Homo sapiens: one gene and its partner. The protein of the gene in region 1 purifies or fractionates together with the protein of each later gene. This does not show direct contact. Each region holds a gene or a part of one and is shown in the gene's direction. Other genes may lie near its edges. The genes, in order: MTFR1 and CTSO.

Region 1 (3,500 bases):
TTTATACAGGCAGTAAATTCGTAGAGGCTAATTTTAAAGCCAGGCCTATATGCTATAATGGCCTGTTTTCTCTTTACTGTCTTTTATTTTCCCTCAACATTTGTTTGAATTTAAAACTACATGCTCACATATCTCCAAACTTTTTATGTCCCTAAGCAAAAATGTTTTTTAAATTGCAGGAAGTGAGAATAGTGTGAAGCTAATGTGATTCTGATTAATTTCAGTATTTTATATTGGAAGAAAAGTTACTATAGCAAGTATCTATAATAATTTGTATTATTGTACTCTGGTTTTCTTTTGGTGCTTTGGAGGAGGAATGTGAGTAAGGAAGAAGAGAACTGAGGGAAGTGTTAATCTTTGGTTAAGGATTTAAAAATTGTTACAGAATTTCATCTTCCCATTTTCACTCCTTCCCCCTTCCCAACACACACTTTTAATTTTCCCTTAGCTCCCTGAGAATTAAGAATTTACATTTTGTTGGGTCCTAACTTTTTAAAGATCTGATTAACAGTATGGATGCTCTTCCCAGAAAAGTAACACATACACAATTTTGTGTGTAATTTTAGGGATACATGAACCTCTGCATTAATGCATTAATATCACATAGCTTGTCTTGAAAAATATATTTTATTTATTTTTGTTTGTTCTTTGAGACGAAATCTTGTTGTGTCCCAGGCTGGAGTGCAGTGGCGCATTCTTGGCTCACTGTAGCCTCTGCCTCCCGGATTCAAGTGATTCTCCTGCCTCAGCCTCCTGAGTAGCTGGGATTACAGGTGCCCGCCATCACCCCTGGCTAATTTTTGTATTTTTAGTAAAGACAGGGTTTCACCATGTTGGCCAGGCTGGTCTCGAACTCCTGACCTCAAGTGATCCACCCTCTTCAGCCTCCCAAAGTGCTGGGATTACAGGCGTGAGCCACCACACCCAGCCAGAAAAACATATTTTTCTTAGAGTTAAATTTATAGTTTTTCCTGCTAAAAGTTGCCCTCAAATAATAATGTATGTAAAACTAGTCTATAATAAATGAATTACCACATACAGCTTGAGTGCAGTCATCATGGATGAGACAGATGACAGCTTCAGATTCCAGCCTCACACGTCAACACTTTCTACAATAGCATTTCACAATGTTAAAAAAGAACAAACTACTTTCCTGTTGTCATCCTCCTCCTTGCTGTCATCACTTTCAAACACTGTTGCTAAATGTTATGGACTGTCATTACTAGACACAGACATGCATGTGCGCGCACACACACACACAGATTCACTGTTAGATTATTTAAAAAAGCAGTTTTCATAGATAAAGCATGGTTTTTCTGTTTAGCTATTTCTCTCTTTTTTTTTTTTTTTTTTTTTTTGAGACAGAGTCTCGCTCTGTCACCCAGGATGGAGTGCAGTGGCGCGATCTTGCTCACTGCAACCTCCACCTCCCGGTTCAAGCAATTCTGCCTCAAGCCTCCTGAGTAGCTGGGACTACAGGCGTGTGCCACCACGCCTGGCTAAGTTTTTATATTTTAGTAGAGACGGGGTTTCGCCACATTGGCCAGGCTGGTCTCGAACTCCTGACCTCAGATGATCCACCCGCCTCGGCCTTCCAAAGTGCTGGGATTACAGGCATGAACCACTGCGCCTGGCCCTGTTTAGCTGTTTCTTTTTTTTTTTTTTTTTTGAGACGGAGTCTTGCTCTGTCCCAGGCAGGAGTGCAGTGGCACGATGTCAGCTCACGGCAACCTCTGCCTCCCAGGTTTAAGCTATTCTCCTGCCTTAGCCTCCTGAGTAGCTGGGATTACAGGCGTGCACCACCACACCTGGCTAATTTTGTATTTTTAGTAGAGACAGGGTTTCACCGTGTTACCCAGGCTGGTCTTGAACTCCTGAGCTCGTGACCCGCCCACCTCGGTCTCCCAAAATGCTGGGATTACAGGCGTGAGCCACCACGCCCAGCCAGCTATTTCTTAATGGCATTGGATTGTCTTATTTTCTAAATGAAATTGGATTATCTTGCCAGGCTTGGTGGCTCACGCCTGTAATCCCAGCACTTTGGGAGGCTGAGGTGGGTGGATCATGAGGTCAAGAGATCGAGACCATCCTGGCCAACATGGTGAAACCCCGTCTCTACTAAAAATACAAAAATAAGCCAGGTGTGGTGGCACGTGCCTGTAGTCCCAACTACTGGAGAGGCTGAGGCAGGAGAATTGCTTGAACCTGGGAGGCAGAGGTTGCAGTGAGCTGAGATCATGCCACTGCACTCCAGCCTGGCAACAGAGGGAGACTCTGTCTCAAAAAAAAAAAAAAAAAGAAATTGGATTATTTTATGACCATTTTCTTCTCCCTGCCTTCTCTCTTTCATCTAAAGAAATATTAATGACAGTTTGTCTTTAGAGGAAGTCTTTCCTTCTCTAAACTAGCATACTGACAAGACATAGTTCAGCCACAAGTTACGGTAGGAGATGCACTTGGGTCATACAGCCTCCCAATGCACAGATGGTGACTTTTCAGTACCATCTGTTCACTGTTTCTGTACAGCCATTTACAATTTCTCCCCCTCTATGAGGGCTGAATAGAAAAAAATAGAAAAGTAGTCAGACCTAGTTTTAGAGTTCCTGGAAATTAGCTATTCTTTCCCCTCACTTTTTCCTACCATCCAATAAAGGTTATGGCTCTTCATTCTAAATATTTCAGTCATTAGTTTACACAGACCCTTATTTGATATTTATTGGTGCTAAGTACTATGTAATTCACAAGTAACAGAAGAACACATTATGTTAGTCTACTGTGTATGCTTGAAAAAATAATCACATAAAGCAATCTGTTCTTTTCCTTCCTTTAACTTTGTAGAAGATACCTAAATAATCTACTTATTCCTTATAATTAAAAGCTGAATCGGCTGGGCGTTGTGGCTCATGCCTGTAATCCCAGCACTTTGGGAGGCCGAGACGATTAGATCACCTGAGGTCAGGAGTTCGAAACCAGCCTGGCCAACATCGTGAAACCCCGTCTCTACTAAAAATACAAAAATTAGCTGGGCATGGTGGCACCTGCCTATAATTCTAGCTAGATAGAATTGCTGTAACCCAGGAGATGGAAGTTTCAGTGAGCCGAGATCGCACCACTGCACTCCAGCCTGGGTGACAGAGCGAGACTCCATCTAAAAAAATTTAAAAAAAAAAGCTGAATCATTGGCCACTTCTCTTGTTGAAGGCACCTAGTATTTTTCTGATATTAAACAGATGGAAACATAATAGTTGACATTTCACCCTGCAACATGCGTAGTGAAGAATGCTAAAAGCAGGCAGAAACATAGTTCCTGACCTTGGCAAATCCTTTCTAAATTTTTCTTTGTGAGCTTTTTGTCCTCTTCATCTCCAGACAAGACCTTTGCTTGCTGGAGGGGAGAAAGATTCACTTTAGACTGTCTAATTGTCACGTTGTAATGCACAAATAGCATTCCACTTGTACTACATCATAGGAGAATTTTGACTTGTGACTAAATAGAAGAC
Region 2 (4,035 bases), on another chromosome or scaffold:
TACAGGCATGAGCTGCCCTGTGTTCACCTTTGTCAAAGTTTGGAGACCCTGCTGTATGGTCACTTAGTGAGTGTTTTTACTATGCCATAGGCACTAGAGATAGAGATATAACCTTTAAAAAAGCACTTAAAGCCATAAAGTTGCTCAAAACTTAACTCTGCAAAGATATCCAATTGTCATTCCTTTTTTTTTTTGGTCTAACTCTGCCACACATGGCCCTCCAGTTATGTTAGTTTCATCCAGTCTCAAATCCTACTCTCTTCTGCCTTTTCTGTGGATCCTTCTTCCTTTTACGTGATCCTACGATCCCTAATTTCATTCCCTCTGTCTCCTCTCTTTCTTTCAGGACTAGTTCTTTTATTCTTTTGTTCTAGTTTGTTAAGTAAAAGCAAATTAAGAGATCCACTATCAGCATGATTGGCAGCCAATACTGGAGTAATGACTAATATGGATTTATATCCTTAGGACATTTCATGTACATCCACTATAAGCATACTTAATCGGGCATCTTTATAGCCTAAAGAGTAATTCATTAATATTTATTAATTCTCTTATCTCCATCAAATAATTAGCACAACATGCATCTTTCCCCTCCTCACCCTTAGGATGGAAGTGGTGTATGACCATGGAAGCAGAGTGTCCTTAAAAAAGCAAGGGGGATGGAAGGTTGGGGCGGGAGTCGGCACACACTCTCCAGAAGAAAAGCCACTTACAAAGAGAAGTCACATATTCAGTGAACTGAATGGTCTTTTAGAAGATCATCAGTTAGCCCAAGTATTTCCTCGGTCTCTAAAAATTCACTTTTATCTTGCATTGCCAAATTTAGAATAGTAATAATGCTGACAACATGAACTAATAATTAAATGATGCTCAAAAGAGACTTTTGGTTTTCTCTTTTTTTCAGTTTAAAAATCTAGAGGATAGGCGTATTTATTTTGTAGGTTTCCAGAATCTGGAAGCCTTACTTGATTTGATAACTTGTTACATTTAGAGATGTTGGTAAGTTGATTTAAACCCTGGAAATACCACCCCTTTTTCTGTTTTTAAACAGTGTGGAGGATGCTGGGCCTTCAGCGTGGTGGGGGCAGTGGAATCTGCTTATGCAATAAAGGGGAAGCCCCTGGAAGACCTAAGTGTCCAGCAGGTCATTGACTGTTCGTATAATAATTATGGCTGCAATGGAGGCTCTACTCTCAATGCTTTGAACTGGTTAAACAAGGTGACTAGTCTCTCAACCTCTTAAACTCTTTATTTCCTTTTTTGCTTGTTTACTGTGTGTTCAAAATTCAAACAGTTTGTTCACATATATTAAATAATGTTTCCACGTTCGGAAATGTAGATGATCAAAGCATGAAGTAATTAATCAGAATATTTAAAAATGAATCACTTCTAGGCAAAGCAGTTGTCAAGAAATCAAAAGGGGAAAAATCTGAAGTCTGTCTTCAGAGAAATATTTATATTTATTTCTTAACATTTCTTAATATATACATGCTTTTTTGCAGATCTGAATATCTCATAATATCCCGGAAAGATGAGAATATATTTTTTTTATTTTCATAGAATTTCTGAATGTTAAGGTTAAAAGGAACATTAGAGACTAATTTTTTAGCTCTTTTTTGTTGTTGTTGTTTTTGAGACAGAGTCTCACTCTGTCACCCAGGCTGGAGTACAGTGGCACAATCTTGGCTCACTGCAACCTCCACCTCCCGGGTTCAAGTGTTTCTGCTGCTTCAGCCTCCGGAGTAGCTGGGAACTATAGGTGCCCACCACCACACTTGGCTAATTTTTTTGTTTTTTTTGTTTTTTGTTTTTTGTTTTTGTTTTTTTAGTAAAGACATGGTTTCACCATATTGGCCAGGCTGATCTCGATCTCCTGACCTTGTGATCCACCCGCCTCAGCCTCCCAAAGTGCTGGGATTACAGACATGAGCCACCACACCCAGCCTGTAGCTCTTTTTATAGATGAAGAAATGAAGCCTGAGAAGTGAGATCATTTTGTCAAGTCAGTAGCTGAGCCGGAGTTGTACCTTCAGTCCCCAGCCTCTCACAGTAGGGCTTTGCTCAGTATACCCCAGTGTCCCTCAGCGTTCTTAGCACTTGCCCTGACAGTGTCCCAGATCCGATATCAACTGCATGAAATTTGCCAATGAGGGTGCTATTAGTTTCTGTAGAACGTCATCAAACCAGAGTTCCCCAAACCTGAATTCTCTTCCATTATCCATTGGTTGCATTTTTAATCACGTATTCCAGGACCTGCTCTGTACACACTGTAGACGACAATGAATTATGAGTCTCCTCCCTTTCATTAGCCTAGCATTCAAAAAGGGAGGGTTTTGTACAGATAACTATGAAGTATTTGACATATGCTATATGAATGGCATAAAAGTGAAGTGATAGAAAGAATGCTTGACCTAACCGTTGCCTGTGTATAAACCACTGGATGGAATCTGAAAGACTTGGCAGAACCAGAAGCACTGGGAGGAAAGTGAGCTGCCCTATAGCACCGTCAGGAGAAAGATGACAAGACTGTTACTAGATCCATGGAGGATCTACAAAAGGATGCTGTAAGATAAAGAGAAGTAAGGGAGAAGGAAAGATATTGACTCCAAATGTCTAGACTATCCAGAACAAGCACCTAAAGATTTAATTTATAATATTAAAAACCCAAAGTATAGGCTGGGCACAATGCCTCACACCTGTAATCCCAGTATTTTGGGAAGCCAAGGCAGGTGGATTTCTTGAGTCCAGGAGTTTAAGACCAGCCTGGGCAACAGAGTGAGACCCCATCTTTACAAAAAATACAAAAAATTAGCCTGGCGTGGTGGCTCATACCTGTAGTCACAGCTACTGGGGAGACGGAGGTGGGATGATCACTGGTGCCCAGGAGGTGGAGATTGCAGTGAGACGAGATCGAGCCACTGCACTCCAGCCTGAGCAACCAAACAAAACTCTGTCTCAAAAAAGAAAAAGAAAAAAAAAAGAACGCAAAGTATATCCACATGATGAAGGTGTGTGAAATTGAACCTGTTTTGACACAGTGAAGTAAGTTCTATTTGATTTATAAAACAATTGACAGTAAACATGTTCAGTGATTGTTTTCTTTTAGATGCAAGTAAAACTGGTGAAAGATTCAGAATATCCTTTTAAAGCACAAAATGGTCTGTGCCATTACTTTTCTGGTTCACATTCTGGATTTTCAATCAAAGGTTATTCTGCATATGACTTCAGGTAAAGATCTTATTGTATTATGTTTTTCTTTATACATTTTTAATTTATGATCTATTGACTGGTTAATAATTTGTTTGAAGGCATCACTGCATACTCTTAATCCTTGTAAAACATACTTTTTACTAGAAAGAGTAGCAATTACAATGAAATGTTGTAAATGTTGTTTCTTAATTATAATCTACTTATTTTCCCAAGTGTCATTACGATAGAAATGAAAAATTTTAATTCTGTGTAAGGTACAATTTATATGTATATTTATTTGTTATATTTTATATTTTATTATACTTACAAATTATTAGTGCATAATTTATATTTATATATACCACCTTCATCTTATCAAATTTAGGTGTTATATTACCATTAGCATATTTCAATCTTAATGGTGAGTCCATCCAGAATTGCTTTGTACAGACTGTGCAGCTAATATCACGTAGGCTACATATCAGGAAGCATATTTTGAACACCTTCTATGTTCTTTGCATTTTTCAAGACATCAGCCATTTGAAAAATATAACACAAAACTTCAGATTAGAGAAAAGAGGGAAGCATATACTACTGAAGATAAATTATGTAGCATACACTATAAGCATGATGGGAATGTAGGGATAGATAAAGACAGGCTGAGGAAAAGGACTTGTGTTGGAACTGAAGGGCAGGATAACTTTGGATAGTTTTGGGGAAAACAATCATTAAAAATGCTTTAAAAACACATGAAAAACACAGAGCTGGCTGGAGACTCATCATGACCATTTGATAGAGTGCAAAATAGGTGTTCATGGGTGAAAAGGACAAAGGGAGACCCAACCA

Evidence for each region.
Region 2: the proteins of MTFR1 (region 1) and CTSO purify together in Homo sapiens (affinity purification with mass spectrometry; one large-scale study listed by BioGRID and IntAct). This does not show direct contact.

Annotation. Positions count from the first base shown.
Region 1 is NC_000008.11:65,675,734-65,679,233, forward strand, and holds part of MTFR1 (mitochondrial fission regulator 1 isoform 1 precursor), read left to right. Parts: intron 1-3,500. UniProt on the Homo sapiens protein: May play a role in mitochondrial aerobic respiration. May also regulate mitochondrial organization and fission.
Region 2 is NC_000004.12:155,936,555-155,940,589, reverse strand, and holds part of CTSO (cathepsin O preproprotein), read left to right. Parts: intron 1-1,051; coding exon 1,052-1,219; intron 1,220-3,106; coding exon 3,107-3,228; intron 3,229-4,035. UniProt on the Homo sapiens protein: Proteolytic enzyme possibly involved in normal cellular protein degradation and turnover.